2 separate regions of the Homo sapiens genome follow, and region 1 is linked to region 2. Evidence: fine-mapped expression QTL. Tissue or cell type: gastroesophageal junction. Region 2 holds a variant in brackets; the other region holds the start of a gene. All regions are shown on one strand. Distances are between the middles of the regions.

What was found. PIP is the estimated chance that this variant, and not a neighbour inherited with it, causes the effect.
Region 1: it holds the start of NTNG1, and the variant in region 2 is fine-mapped to the expression of NTNG1 in gastroesophageal junction (GTEx, PIP 0.99).

The regions. Positions count from the first base shown.
Region 1 is chr1:107,137,213-107,145,337 of GRCh38, reverse strand. It overlaps NTNG1 (netrin G1), which reads right to left and starts at 4,299. Exons shown (of 8, transcript NM_001113226.3): 1 at 4,198-4,299. RefSeq lists silencers at 3,605-3,884, 3,905-4,194 and an enhancer at 4,128-4,659.
Region 2 is chr1:106,562,126-106,570,250 of GRCh38, reverse strand. No RefSeq gene overlaps it. Among named protein-coding and RNA genes, the nearest start is that of LINC01661, 250 kb to the left of the region's middle. The variant G/T (reference allele first, on the strand shown) is at 3,338.

The sequences.
Region 1 (8,125 bases), 580 kb before region 2:
ATGAACTTCCATGACACACAATGGAAAAGCAGCCTCTGAAAATCAGGAATTTGTTATTAAAGTATAATTACAGAGTTTTCAAAGAAAATACAATGATGTAAAAATAGAATATTATTTACAACTTAACCTCCACTATTTAATGGCACTGTGTCTATCTGCTGTGCTTTCAAACAGGTTAAAATTATCAATAGCTTCTTAAAAGCTAGGTCATCACAGCAAATAGCTAGGGAAACCAATTATGAGAAGGACAGTGAATAACATATTTGGGGACTTAATATACTAAACCTATCCCTTCTGGCCCATAACTGAACTAATTGTGAAGTGACGTGGCCTTTAAATTTGTCTCAGGTGTCCGTATCACCTAAATAAGAACAGATTCATAAGAGCTCTGGGCAGCTCCAGTTCTACCTCTTCACTTTGCAGACCTTGGGAACTCACTGTAATCAAAAATGCTACCACCTCTACTTGGGAACTAAAGTACTGAGAAGTCTCCTTTGATAAAAATACCCATTAATAGGTTGTGAGTACCCCATAGACCTCCGGTGTATAAATTTGCAGAACCAATAATAAAAGGTAAAATTAAGTCATGGCCCTCAAGTTGATAGAGATTATTGATCAGGACTAAAATGGGCTATAAAATGCCTTTGCACACACAAAACATGTATTTGTCCAGGATTCTGCAGCTAATTCCCTTCCACCTTGGATTAATTTTGCAGAAGCCATTTTCACAGGCCCTTTCTTTCACCAGAAAAAAAAAGCCTCCCAAAATATTACATGGAAGTAATAATGGTTAATATTACAGGCAATTATATTCCAAAAGCAATTGCCAGTTTCATCAACTGAGAGGAAGACATTATCAGTAAATCTCCTAATCTAGCTGGTTTTCAGCATTCATTTTATTATATAATCTCACTAGCAGGTGGGAATGGTGGTAGTAAGCTATTTTTTTCATAAATATTCAGCTTTTCAGGGGTACCTGAAATACACAACTATTGACTCATTCCTCATTCACATTAAGAATTTTATAAATATGCATGTTTCTGAATGGGAAGGAACAAAAGGAAAATTGACTATATAGATCATTGAGTGAAAATATAAAAAGATAAAGATATACAAAATTATAACCTATCAAAATTAGCAGCTTCCAACAGTCATAATGAAATTTATTACATAAGATATTTTAACATGTATTCAATGCTCTTTGCAGCTATTTGTTCTGAAGAAAGCATTTTCTAGTCAACTTAATGGAAAACATATGCTTCTATCCTTTTGTTAACTGTCTCTCAAAATATAAGGAATTTAATATGTACTGCAACATCATTGGCATAGCTTACTCACACTTGATTGGGTATTATGAGCAACTGTCTATCATGAGATTCTTAATAAACCCAAATAACACACCGTGGTAATTGAAAGATCTCTATTTTCATTGAGAGAAGACTGATTCAAGAAATTAGATAGCACATGTTTTGCAGGATGATTGAGGATGGGATAATACCCAAAACTATTTCAGAATCAGTTAAGCCTAGAAGAAATCTGGAATTTAATTACCACATGAAAAACAAATATTTAATTCTCATGCAGGGAAGTTCAGAGATCTAAGGTCTCAAACGCATATATGAGAAAATCTACACCTACCTGAAGTTTTGAAACAGAACTTTGGATTCTGCAAATAAAATTATTTTTTAAAGTATGCTAAATCTCATACTAACCTAAGACTTTACTAATATAATCTCCTATACAATATAATTCACACACATATATTTCAATGTTAACATATAATTGGTTTTCAAAGTTGAATCCAATTTTCTTTTTTCCAAGTGACTTGATGCCTTTGTAACTAAAACTCTCCAAATTTTTATGACACTTAGAAATCCTATCAAATAAATGTGTAATGGTTTAACTTTTTAAACAAATTACCTGAATATTTTTCAGAATAATAATGGAAGCAAAAATAGGTATTTGCACCACTTGCAAATATACAAAAGGAAACTGCAAAATACATTTGCCTCCTCCTAAAAAGGCTAACCTGAATCATTTTAACACATATACCCATTGAAAACTGACAAAACAAAAATATTAACAGGAAACCAGCTTTATGTTCAAATAAACTGTTTCCATGCAAAAGTTTTAAGATTATCCGTCTTAAATTCCACAGTAAGGAAATACCACCAAATTAGTAGTGCAGTATATAGAATCCTGAATGCCTTCATGGTGGTCTTCAGTGGGTGAAATATATCTCATTTCACGGCATCCAGAAAAGAAAATATATCCCTGGAACAACATTACATGTGAAATACTTGATGCACATTTTTCCTTGCATGTTGATCCACATGCAGAGATCCAAATTTTATCTTAATGAAAAATCGAAAGTTGCTTATCTTCAAAAAGAATCTTGGACAGTTACTGAGCTGCTTTTCCTTTGCCAAAGAGAAAGGGAGGCGGGTAAGGCATTCAAAGTGACACAGTTCAAAATACTTAATGAAATGTGGAATTGCTAATTCCCTCACTAGAGATCCTCCTCAAGGGACAAACAAAACAGAAAAGCCTCCCCTGAAAAAAAAAAAAATTATTTTTTGGAAAACTTTCCAACAAGCTTAACTACTAAGCATATCTGAATAAGTGATTTTAATGGAAGATCTTCCTGGGTTTTTTTTTTTTTCATTTCTGTAAGATAAAACAACTTTTAGTATTTTCAGTCATAAAACAGGGCCTTATTTCTAGAGCAATTCTACTGCCAGATTCACCATATGTTTAGTGGAGTTCTGAATCTTACTCAGAATTTTCCATTCCAAAGATTGACAATTTGTTATGAGGAGTGGCTCCATTATTCCCTGTATAAAGAGAAGAATGGGTGAGAGAGGAGGACCGTCTACTCACTGGAAATCTGTACCTGATGCAACTATAGGAGCTCAACCTGCGACTTTTCCAAGTAAAGTTGCTTTAAAATCCCCGCTAGGAATTTTCTTCCCTTGCCCTGTAAGATGACAGCCTACTCTTAAGTGGATTTCTGAAGGAAAAAAAAAAAAAGTCCCCGGGTGAGGGTACTAAAATTAACAGCAGAGGGCGCAGTTTCTTTTTATATCTAAGTTTTTCCTTGTATGAATCACTTAATTGGTTATTTTAGGCCCAATAATATTCAGTATTATTTGTATTATATATAGATATCCACAGATCCATACAGGAGTGCAATTCAGTGTCCCTAGCCGAATCCATCAACCGATTAATATGATGCCAGTAAAGAATATGAGAGAATATTCCAAACAGCATCCCTACACCAAGTCTTCCTCTTTCAATTTCCCTTTCTCCCCAGCTGCACAACATGGGATAGTAATGTTTTAATCTAGCACCAATAAAGGCGATTAAAAGAAGGGACTTCAAAAGCTCTCGATGTGGCCACCAGATCCCCAAGGCCGGCAATAGGGCAAGTGTTTTTTTGTTTTTTTTGTTTGCTTTTCCCCAAACAAATATAATTGGCGAAAGAAAGAAAAAATAACGACAAGCCGCCTGAGCGATGTGTGTGGCCAGGTGTGCGTGAGAGAGGGAGAGCGCGGGGCCCCTGTCAGTCGGCGGATGGAGGCTCAGACCCCACGCCTGGGCTCCGGACACAACAAGAGGACGCATCACCGGCCCGGGGCGCACCCCCGGGAAGACTTGTGTGTGGGTGTGAGCGTGTGCCGCTGTGTGTGCGCGTAGGGCTCCGCGCGCTGCCTCCTCGGGGCGCTTTACAAAGTTCCTCGCCCACCCGGAGCCTTCCCTCCCGCCTGTGCATCGCAGCGGGTGGGGCGGGGGGCGGCGGGGGGTGGGGAAACCCGGGGGAGAGGGGCACGGGCGAGAGGCTCGGGTCGCAGTAGGAGAGGCGAGCCGCAGGCACTTACCGTGTGGCTCGTTTGCCCTTGCGCCGGGCGGGAGCCGAGCCGACGGCGCGGGGCGGCGGCCCTGCGCAGCCAGCCTGGTCCGCCTCGGGCGGCGGCCGCAGCAGCGGAGCCCGCGGGCGGCGTACGGGCGGAGGGCGGCAGCTCCCGCGGAGCCTCCTCCCCAGGCGGGAGCGGGCGGAGCGGGAGGGGTGGGCGTGAGGACCCGAGCCGCCGCCACCGCCGCAGCCCGGGGATTCCGATCGCGCCCGGCCGCCGGCGGGAGAGGACCCCGAGGACCGAGAACCCAGCGCCGGCCCGCCACTCCCCGCCGCTTAATTACCTTCGCCTCCGCCCCCGGGGGGAGCCTCCTGCAAGTCGCCCCCTCTCGGAGCCCGCACCCAGAGGGGGAATTCCTTCCCGTTGACGTCCTCTTCCGAAATGCAAAAGATCAGTGACTTTGACAGGTAGATGAGGGGGAGGGAGTAAGGGTGGGCGGAGAGGAAGAGAGGATGAGAAAGGTGCCTCTCCCTCCAAAAATATAGTGATATTAATAATGAGATCTCAGCCTTCGGAGGTCGTGCCAGCCCAGTCCCCTGCTCGCCGGCTCTCCTCCGCGCCTCCTCGCTCCGCTGCCTCTGACACTTCTCGCCTTAAACTTTTACTGAGGGATATTTTTTCTTTTTTCTATTTCTATTTCTTTTTTTTTTCCTCTTTTTTTTTTTTTCAAGCCGCAGGACGATTTTCTGGTTCCCGGGGATCAGAACCAGCGGCCAGGCGGTTCTATGCCGCTTGGCACCGCTTTCATTTTATTTCAGATGAAGACGTTGAGCTTAGTCAGAAGGGGCATAAATCAGGACAATTAGCATTGGCGCCAAGAAGATCCTCTAATACCAATTTCGCCCGGGTTTCCTTCGCGCATTCCTCCACTCAAGTCAGAAATGTCACTGCACATAGCACTGATGGCAGTGAGACGCGACGCACCCAAAGTCCGTTTGATGAAATATACATGGCCCACGACGCTTCTGGATTGCGGCTCCCGGACTCCCCGCCCCCACCAGCGGCTCCCGGCCGGGACCCTGCTCCGAGCGGGCAGCGAGCTCCTGGCAAACTTAGGGGCCAGTGCCAATTAAAGAGTGAGCGCGAGAGCCGGAAAGAGGAGCGGCAAAGAAGCAAGCCCGGGGAAGCCGCAGCCCTCGGAGGGGTGGCATGTACGTTTCACTTAAAAAGCAGATCTTCTTCTGCAACTGCCAGCAAGTGGAAGGATAGCAAACCTTATACTACCTCGAGACCTGTGCGCTCCGAGCGGTCCTAACTCCGTCCCGCTCGCTGTTGCTGTTGCTGGTGCTGCTCCGGCTGCAGCTGCTGCCGCTCCACGACCTCGGGGCGCTGAGGCAACAGGGCCCCCTCCCTCTACTCCCCATCCCCCCCGGCTCCTCCACAGAAGCGCCGTTTCCAGTAACTCCTCGTGTACCTCCCACTTCTGCCGCCGTCCATCCCACCCCTCTCTCTTCTGTCCCCTCCCCAAACCGTTCCCAAGCACACCCTTCGCCGCTGGAAGTGATCACAATGTTGTTTTTCAACAAGCACTTCCTTTGCCCGGAGGCCCCTACAGCCCTAGACTGGAAACTCCTCCTTTAGAAATTCATTCCCCTTTAAAAAGTTGAAGTTCAAGGGAGAGCTGCGCATTTCAGGCTTCCTTGCCTTTTCTAAGAGAAAGACAAATGCTCCGATGCTCCAGGCTTCATTCCCCACCAAGGCGGGCTCAGACTCACCTGGGATCACTCTTAGCTACACATTAACGTCAAACAGAAACAAATCCGAATTTAGATAAGATAGGGAGACTTCCATTAGAAAGAAAGACTATTGCAACAGGGAAAACGCTCTGATCTCAGAAATCTGCAAACCTCTCAAAACCAAACAGAAATCGGCCTTTTTTTTCTATATATATAAGGGGGAGCAAGCAATAGGCAAAGCCAAGTGGATGGGGGAAACAACTCACTTCAAGACCCTCTTGGTTGAACAAGAAATGTGTCTCTGTGGTCCAAGAATTTGGAAGATAAGCTAACAATGGTGAATGTTTCACATTTTAGTTCTTGCTCAGATTTGGGGGGCAAGCTAAATTCCAGGGACCTGCTGGAGAGAAGCCTGACTCATGTTTGGTCAAGGCAAAGTGGCGGGTGGGGGGGGGGTGGAAGAAATGGGCAATTGTGAACACTTAGTCACTATGTGTCCCACAATTAAGGCAGGAGGCTGAGTAATTGGGTCATTTTTCTGTGATGACTGGGGGTGGTGTGGTAAAAGGATGGATGGGGGAGAAGTTTGTTGAGTTGGGCCTATAACCAGGCCCTCCTTGGCCCTGGGCAGCCAGGAAGTGGGCAGGGATTTCAGGCACCCCCAGCCTTCCCTCTAACACCTAAGAGGCCACAATAAGTCGCCTTCGGAATCTCTGAGTGCAGGAATCTGGGATTCATGTGCTTTCCTCTTTCCCACCTTTGTCCTGTAGTGCTGACATTGCAAAAAAGAGTTACCTGCAGGGCTGAAACTCCTACCAAGGGTTCTTAGACAGTGGCCAAGTCTGGCTCTTCCCCCTGTCTCTAGCCATGCTCCTCCAGGTTTAAAACATACTGACTATATGGAGATGTTACTCACCACCTAATCCTCCTTCACAGGCCCTTAGATCCCAGTTCTTTCTATGGGAGCCCTTTGCAATAGGATATAATAAACAATACCAAGAGTGGCCTTCTTATTTCTCGTTGGCCCCTTGGCCTAGATCCTGAAATACAGACAGTTCTCAGCCTTTCCTCTCTCTTGCCCTTCTCTCTCAAGCCAAGAAAGCCTTTCTGAACTCTCATCCTCTGCTTTATCTGGTCATTTAAGGCCCTTCTGTAGTAAAAATAAAATAAATCTATGCAGAGATTAGAGAACTCTCTTCTGGAATATACCAAGATCTTTGTGATTTTGGCTCCCAACCTGGAAAAATACTTGTTTTCATCTGTCAAAATCTTGGAACTGACCTCCCTTCCTCTCTTCCTGTATCATCCCTCATTCCCAGGATTCCTTTGACTATGAGGCAATCCCAAGTAAGTGTGATATGTAAATGGGAACCTCTCCAGTTAGGTAACACCTCCCACTACAGGAGTGGGAGAGTCTTTCAGAGGTGAGTTTTTCTGTGGAACATGTGCTCTGACCTTTGCAGAAGCTCAGTGAATCACCAACTAAACATGTGGATCTAAACTCAAGGAAGTAAATCAGAATCATCAGAGACTTTTCAACATTAAAACCCCTTCCCTTCCAGATCTTGTTCTCTCCTCCAGCAGCAATCAGGTGGTAAGGACTTTTTCTCCAAAAAAGCAGTTTAAGTGGATTTGATATACTTCCCCAAACTAACGTGCATATATTAAACCAGCTTTCCTCAATATACCTTTGCATATTTGTTTATATGATATACACTGATCAGAAATTGACTTTAGAGTTTTCATTGCCTCCAAGATAAATCATTTAGGGGATACCTACCTTTTCTTATCATTCTTTGCTTTTTCTAGCCATATATATATTTAACTTTCTTTGGAAAAAACTATTTTTCCGTTTTTATTTAACCTTTCAACTCTACTTTTTTTTTTTTTCTTTTTCCTTTTGGAGAAGAATGGTTTGATCTTTCAGTTCTCTGGCTTTAGATCTTTGGCTGGTTTCTACACATTCCTCATTCTTCTTCAACTTAGATATCCATTTATTTGTAATCTTGTTAGGTCTCTAACTGTTGTTCATTTTTCTAGGTTCTTAGCTGCCTAAAAATCTTCTCTTTAGAGATTTGGCAGGGTTGTTTCAATATTTGTAACTTCAATATGCCGAAGTGGTAGTGATGGCATATTTGCAATATATCTGGTCCAAAAAGAAATGTGTCTTTTTTATAAATACTGTAAAATACTTGACATAAAGTAGGTGTAAGATAAATGTTCAGTGCAGGTGTGAATAGCTTTAGCTTATTCTCAAGATTCATGGCCTCTTTGGTAACAGGAGCTAACTCTCACCATATTAAATTAATATGTAGATGTCTAAAATATCCAAATCATGGGTGCATTAGACATTCTGGGGTGCTGTAACAAAGACCATAGATTGAGTGGCTTTAAAACAATAGAAATTTATTTCTCACAGCTCTAGAGACTGGAAATCTGAGATCAGAGGGCCAACATGGTCAGGTTCTGGTGAGAACCCCCTACTGGGTTGCAGGCAATAGACTGACTCCTTGTATTCTCACATGGTGGAAGGAG
Region 2 (8,125 bases):
ACAGGCTTTTATATGCAAGCATCTCCATGACTAAAATAGAGTGAAAATGGGACTTAGAATGAAAAATATATTAGTTTACAGAGAAAGTAGGAATTATCAGAAATCTGCTCCAATTGAGAAGATTAGTAACTACCAAATTATAAGAGGTCATTGTTAGTACCAATTGCCTTCATCTCCCTATGATAATAGAAATATGAACTCATCTTTTCTGGCTTAATCTGTCTGTGTCAATGGTTTTCAGACAAAAGCATTGTGGTGAGAATATGAAGAGTCAGGCCATCCTTGGGGAAATTTATATCCGGCCAGATGATAATTAATATGCTTCCATATCACTGTAAAAGATAGACTTACTCCATGGATTAAATCCATTCATATCTGATAGGGGTATGCCTCTGATGGCCACTGGCCTGGTGACTTCCCTGAACCTGGCCTTGGGAAAGAAGCAGCCTATGCCAATGGAAGACAACTTTTAATTGAGCCCTAGAACTTCTGTTCATTTCTTCCAGCACATTTTGTCAAATAACTCGTTTCATTTTTATCAGGTCCAGGGGCTCAGGGCTATTGGGTAGAGAAGAGAAAGGTGGCAACCATTCTGTATTTGATTCCAATAGGGCAGTGATTCTCAGACTTTAGTGTGCATCCAAATCACGCGATGAACTTGATCATGCACAGGTTGCTGGTCTCCAATTCTAGAGTTGCTAACTTGGTAGGTCTGAGATGAAGCCTGAGTCTTCCGAGGCTGGGGCTGCTAGTCTGAGGACCACACTTTATAAGAAGCACTGCAATGGAGCATATAGATGTTGTTCTTAAACAAATGCTTTCCCATTTTGGTGCATAGACTGTGCTACAGTTGCATGTAAGGGAAAGAAAGGATCAGAGACCAGGAATATGTGTGTAGCCTGGGAGCCAGGGACACGCAGGCCTCTTAAGGCTGATCATTCGGGTAGAATCATGTCTAGAGTTTTGCCTACATAATGAACCTATAGTTTAATATGAGTCTTATATCTTGTACATTTAAAATGAGAGATGATTGAGAAACCATTTCAGCCATTGTATAGATCAGAAAGATTAGTGGAAATAAACGGGAAAAAGGGTCTGGCTTGAAGCATGGGCATTTCAGGCCAGCAGACTCAAGAAACCCTTCTCATAGGGTTGAGGGAAAACCAGAAACAATTGCAGCATTTGTACTTGTCATTTACTAGACATTTTGTAAATTTTCTTTCCCTCTTCCTCTTTTCTTTTTTCTCTTCCTCTTCCCCTCCCACTCTCTCCCTCCCTCCCTCTCTCTCTTTCTAAAACACACACAAACAACCAAAGTAATAAGATATTTTTAGGCAGCAAATGGCATATGCTTAAGACTCATAGTGAGAAAAAAAATTTTCAATATCCTTAAGATGTGTATTACCAAATTTCAATTGTGGAAGAAAGTATGCTTAAGAAGTAAACACTTGATCTTCTTGCTCAGAAAGGTTTGCTCCTTTTAGCATTCCACTGGGAGTACATTTAAAAAAATTCTCTTCCCTTCCAAGTAGGTAACCATTTAGCTTCTGACATGAAATAGCTGATAACCATCTCTTCCCTTTCAAATGATTGAAATCGCTGTTGAAGGGATGGTTAATTTTTAATGTACTTGTTTCAAAAGTTAGACGAACTTTTAAAAACTCAAGTCAGAAACGAAAACGGATGTTATCCTATGGACAAATGACATCAATTGAAATGTACTTTTTTTCTTCAAAGTGATTGACGTAATTTTCTATTAAAGTGACCTTTGCTAGAAATGTTTTCCCTTTAATGATTTCCTGTCTCTTTGGCTCAGCAGCCAACAGAAAAACTGGTTTAAGCCTGTTTCAGCTACTTGATGTTGAAATGGGAAGAAAAGTGGACTCTGAAGCAAGCATAGCTAAGGTGCCATGTGACAGCCATGGCAATCCTAACCGAGCCTTCTAGCTTCTACCATCACAGCTCTCCTTGGTCTTCTCATTGAGTCATATCTGCTACTTTAATGCAGCCCCACCCCCCCTTTTTTATTATCAAGCATCTGTGGTCATGCAGCTACACTCATAGAACTCCAGGTGAATATGCTAACATAATCTGTACCAGTTGTAGAAATATAAATATATTATAATCTAAAGAAAAATGAGGCAAGGAAGAAGCTGAGATCCAGATATGAAAGGACGTTGTAAAGGATGGAGTGAGAAGTGAGAATATACATATACAACTTGAAAGAGTTTGCTGTTCTCGGGTCCGTGGTTGAGAATCAAGTGTGTGTGTGTGTGTGTGTGCACGCGTGTGTGTGTGTAAACCAACCCTTTCTAGTTTGTTGTTATTTGCCATTTTCTTTTGGTCTGATTTTTCCCTATCTTTAGAAACTGGCTCTGGTACAAAAATTCCTGAATGTATTACTGATTGCGTCTTAGAATTTGCTATTTTAATACATTTGTTAATCTAAAAGTCACTCTACTTTTCTGACCCATGTATCGACTACCGTAGAGAAGGTTAGAAAAACACACCAGCATTTACTTGGTTTGTAGAGTGATTTAAATTTTAATTGTGAAGAAGGATTGTTTTCCTTTAGCATGTGATCCTGTTTGTAATTTTCTATCACAAGAGGCAGAAACATTTTTGTGTCAGCATTATCTAATAGAAAGTGACCCTGACATAAAAGTCTTAGCCATTGAAATTTATCTAGGAAATGAACAAGAAGTAGTACACAGAAACAAAAAAAAATGCTTTAAGTAATAATCGGTGATAAGTAGTTATTATGATTTATTTCACTACTTGTATGAAAAGTATCTACGGACAGAGTTAATTGAAAAAGCATGCATAGTCTCCTCTCTTGTAAGACTTCATGCTGGCTCAACAAAATCCATGCTGCTTTTCAACACATATGTACACGCATGCATAAACACACACACTCACACATATTTCTAAAGCCACTTATTACTACTACTTCCTTAGGGATAAGAAATGCCAATAGTAAATAGGAAATAATGTGTGATTTTTCTCGTTTGAACTTATACTTGAATTTGTTGGAAAGGCCCCCTTTAGCTTTAACATTATAAACTGTGCTCAGCACACCAGCCAGTCTCCCTATACGTATTTATTCATGATATTTATTTATAGATCCTATCTGAATTAGAACATATTGAGGTACAGAGTAATGAGATTAAGACATAGAATGATTTTTTTTTGTCCATTACTTGTAATGGGATTATTACTTGGGATTATTTCAGAAAAAGATTCACTTAATCCACAGGTCTTAAGTACAATCCAAACTGATTTAGGCCAGTTGAGTTAATTTCAATTTGTTCTAGAAAGAAAGAAAAGCAATGATTTT[G/T]TTGCAGGAGGATCTGGAGTTTGACATATATATGTATCTGTAAAATCAGCCAAAAAAAAAAGCTTGAATAATGTAAGAATAATTACAAATGAACAAAACTAGAGGAGAGAAAATGTGAAAAAGATTATAAAGTTGAATTAAATTTTCCCTGAGTCTCCAAATATCTCTAGATATATACCTGACCCAACACACTACATAACTCTGGGTTGCCACTCTTTTCTTTCCCAGCTATATTATGTCAAAATCTCTTCTACTTGTGACAAGACATCATGCTTGGTACTTTGGTTACCCGTACAAAGTGAGTGGTGAGGTATTTCTTGAATAAGTCAAGTCCAACTGGCTTGTCCTGTAGAGGACAGAGAAATTGCTATTACTCTCAACCTTTCTCTGATTTGTAGTCGGACAACATTCAGTAGACACCAGAGAGGTTTGTTTGGAGGTGAGGAGTGCTTCCCATTGAACACCTTTCTATCCAGAAAATATAATTGTCATGGGTTAACAGCAATGCTGAGTTCAAAATCCTTAGAAATAAAATATAAATAATATATATGTGATTTTCAGTAAATATTTTACATTTCTATCACTTTTATTATATATTTTAATCTTTTTACTTTGGTACTCTGTGCCTTCTATTCTTTTGAGTATTTTATTGAATAATTCACTGAAAATCATAGATTCTACTTTTAGTAACATTTTATTTTTAACGAAAAGTTTTAAAATTCAAACTGTTCAGCTAGCACATTTGGGCATTTTACAGGGATAAATTTGGTGAACATAAGCATTTAAATAAAATATTAGACATTTAAAAATTGCTGTATTTGGAAATAAATCATATCAACTCTAACAACATATTAAATCAGAGATTCACCTTATAAACATAAATATTTTTTCTATCTATCTCACAACTGAGCTTCAGAGCTAAGTGTATAGTCATACTGTTTACTGATCTGAAAATCTTAAGAGTTGCAAATGAAGAACCTGCTTTTTCCACAGGTCCAAGAAGGAGAGAATACTATGTAAGAAAGGCAATCTTTATTTCTGCAAAAATAACTCTGCCAAGGCCAGGCATATTACCAACACACCAAAGTTGAAAGTGGAGATCATGCTAGGCTATCTTATTCATGCTGATGTATAATCTAATTTCAAGTTTTTCACTTTGCAAAAGTTCTTGTTTCAAGGAAACCAATTCTCCCTGCCTACACCCTATTTTTATCTCTGAAATAAATAAAAAAATGCAGGATACCCTTGGAATGAAATTTTTTCTTATTAGGAGCTGACTCTGCCCTTCTTTGAACCACAACTGCATATTATCACTTATCAATAAATCATTTCAATGACTTCCGTCACTCCATCTCAGGCTGGAAAGTCACACTTCCTTTGGTCTGATAAACCTTTTAGGTTACTTCTTTAATGTATGTCAAATGTATCTATACATCAAATGACATTTCAAGAGCTTGAAAGATCTCATTAGAGTGGTGTTTTAAAATGGCTGAGTTCTATTTTACTGTAAAAGAGAAAAAAGATGCAACTTCAAGTGACTATGTATTTACCCTTCAGGTATTTATGTGTTTACCTCTCTACCCCTGTAGACCATGAGCTTCTTTGGGCTGGGTCTCTCTGCTTAATTATCTTTTTTGTTTGTTTGTTTTTTTAACACTCTCCTTTGGTGAAATGCCTTGAACAAACTAGATTATCAGCAAATTTTGAATCGAACTTTGAATTTTCTAGAATCACATATCTTGTCTGCCTCACACCCCCATTCTATGCCATGGAATGTGGACAGGAGAAACAACAAAAGGAAAGAAGTTCTCAAGGACAGCATCAAGACGTGTGGAAATAGGTATGGTTTTCCTTAGCTTCCCTCCTCCGTCATCTCATACGCACACACAAACACACACACACACACACACACACACACCCTTCTACCTTCTTCATGTTCATTTATAATCCAATATTAATATTAATATTAATTTTAAATCCCACGCTTTACTTGCTTTATGTAAACTACTTGCCCTATATGCTGAGATAATGTTAGGAATTTGTTTTGTTAAATTGTCTAATGTCACAATTCTAAGTGGCAGGAGTGGAATTGAAAATTGTGTTTATATGTCTTTTCTTGTAAAGAGAGAGATGGAAGTCTTGCTATGTTATTCAGGCTGGCCTTGATTTCCTGGGATTAAATGATACTCTCAACTTAGCCTCCCGAGTAGCTGGAGCTACAGGCTATGTAGCTGTATTTTATTCTTAGAGGTGAGGTATCTCTCCTCCTCATTCCACCTGTCCTGCTGTCTCTGAAACTCCATTTATCTTGTCCCCTCTAATCTTGCTCTATCTTTTACTACTATCATGTCAACATTGTAAACTTCCTCATTCTATTGTAGTTTTTTTTTTTCTCCTAAGCATCCTCATTTCTCGCCTAACCTGAATTTGGCTACGTTGACTTTGTGCCTCTTTGTGGTTACAACCTTTTTGCCCTCTTTTTCATGAAAAGATAGTCTGCACTCCTTGTCCCCACTTCCTCATTTTCCATTTACCATGCAACTCACAGCTGTTTGGCTTTTGTGCCAAACAGACTGAAATTACCCTGGCAAGGGTAAACCACCAAAAGACTTATTTAAATGTTTATATATCTGGAATAAAGACCTATAGTAATACATTTCACAGGGTGGATACATAAGCTCTTTGACTTTCATAATTCCTAGTTGCCTTCTATGAGACCAGTTGTCTTCTTACGACCTGACCTCTACTTCTAAGTTTCTCTCATGAACATCTCTTCTGCATACCATTTAAACTGGTGATCTCTCGTATTCTATTCTCACAGCCTACCCCTCTTCTTACTTTAAATCTCAGCCTCCTTATATATCACCCTCTTCTCTTTTACGGAACCCATTTCCGATATGCATGTGAGACACACATGTAGATACTAAGAGAGATACTGTAGGTAGATATCAGATAGGACATCTATAGCCTTGATTTCCGTAGGGGCAATCTAACTTCTTGCCACATATTTCCAGTCATATATTCCAGAAATATTACTATTTAACGGGCTCTTTTTGAGAAAACTCAAAATTTTTTCTTCCATATTTTCTTATTTCTCATCTCATAGCTTTGTAAAAAGCATCACTGTACACCTAGCCTTCCAGTTTTTCATTTCCCATTGAATCCTATCCCTCAACCATCACATACAATTAATTGCCAAATCCATTTGATCTTTCCTCCTGAATTGTTCTGAAATCTATTTCCTATTTTGCATGACACCAACTAATATTGAGTTCAAGCAGGCTTTTGTTTTAATTAGCATGAAATAGTGAAATACCAAACTAACAACCTTTTACCTTCAGTGTGTCCCTTCTTCCCCACTTTATCAGCCTATCCATCTTTCATCTTGTAGCCAGAGTGAGCTTTCAAAATTAAAACTTAGTTCATATCACTCTTTTATAAAAATTCTTTATTTTAATTTTTGTGAGTACATAATAGGTGTATGTATTTCTTGGTTACATGAGATATTTTTATTCAGGCTTGCAATCTATAATAATCACATCAAACATTTGGGGTATCCATCAGCTCAGACATTTATTTTTTATGTTACAAACAATCCAGTTTTACACATTTCGTGATTTGAAAAAAATGTACAATTAAATTATTTTTTACTATAGTTGCCCTGTTGTGCTAGCAAATACTAGGTCTTATTCATTCTTTCTAACAATTTTTGTACCAATTAACAATCCCCACTTCTCCTCCACCCCCTCCCACTACCCTTCCCAGACTCTCATAAGCATCCATCTACTCACTCTCTCTATGAGTTCAATTATTTCAATGTTTAGCTCCCACAAATAAGTGAGAACATGTGAAGTTTGTCTTTCTGTGCATAGCTTATTTCACTCAACAAAATGACTCATGTTGTTGCAATTGACAGGTTCTCATTCTTTCTTGTGTGTGGCTGAATAGTATTCCACCGTGTATATGTACCATATTTTCATTGCAATTTGTCTGTTAATGAACACTTAGGTTGCATCCAAACCTTGCCTGTTGTGAATACTCCTGCAATAAACAGGGGAGTGCATGTATCTCTTCAATATACTGATTTCCTTTCTTTTAGGTATATACCTAGGAGTGAGATTGCTGGATCACATGGTAACTCTATTTTTAGTTCTTTGAGGAACCTCCAAATTGTTCTCTATAGTGGTTGTAGTAATTTACATTCCTATCAACAGTGTACAAGGGTTCTCTTTTATCCACATCCTCACCAGCATTTGTTATTGCCTTACTTTTGGATAAAAGCCATTTTGACTGGGGTAAAATGATAACTCATTGTAGTTTTAATCTGTATTTCTCTGATGATCAATAATATTGAGCACCTTTTCATATACCTGTTTGCCATTTGTATCTCTTCTTTTGAGAAATGCCTAATGAATCTTTTTCCCATTTTTTAAATAATCCAATTATTAGATTTTTTCTATTTAGTTGTTTGATGTTCTTATATATTCTGGTTATTAATCCCTTTTCAGGTGGGTAGCTTGCAAATATTTTCTTTCATTCTGTGGGTTGTCTCTTCACTTTTTTGATTGTTTCTTTTGCTGTGTGGAAGTTTTTTAACTTGATGTAATCCCATTTGTCCATTTTTGCTTTGGTTGCCTGTGGTTGTTGGGTTTAGCTCAAGTGATCTTACTCCAGTCCAATGTCCTGGAGAGTTCCCCAAAGTTTTTTTGTCATAGTTTCATAGTTTGAGGTCTTATATTTGAGTCTTCAACCATTTCGATTTGATTTTTGTACATGGCAAGAGACAGA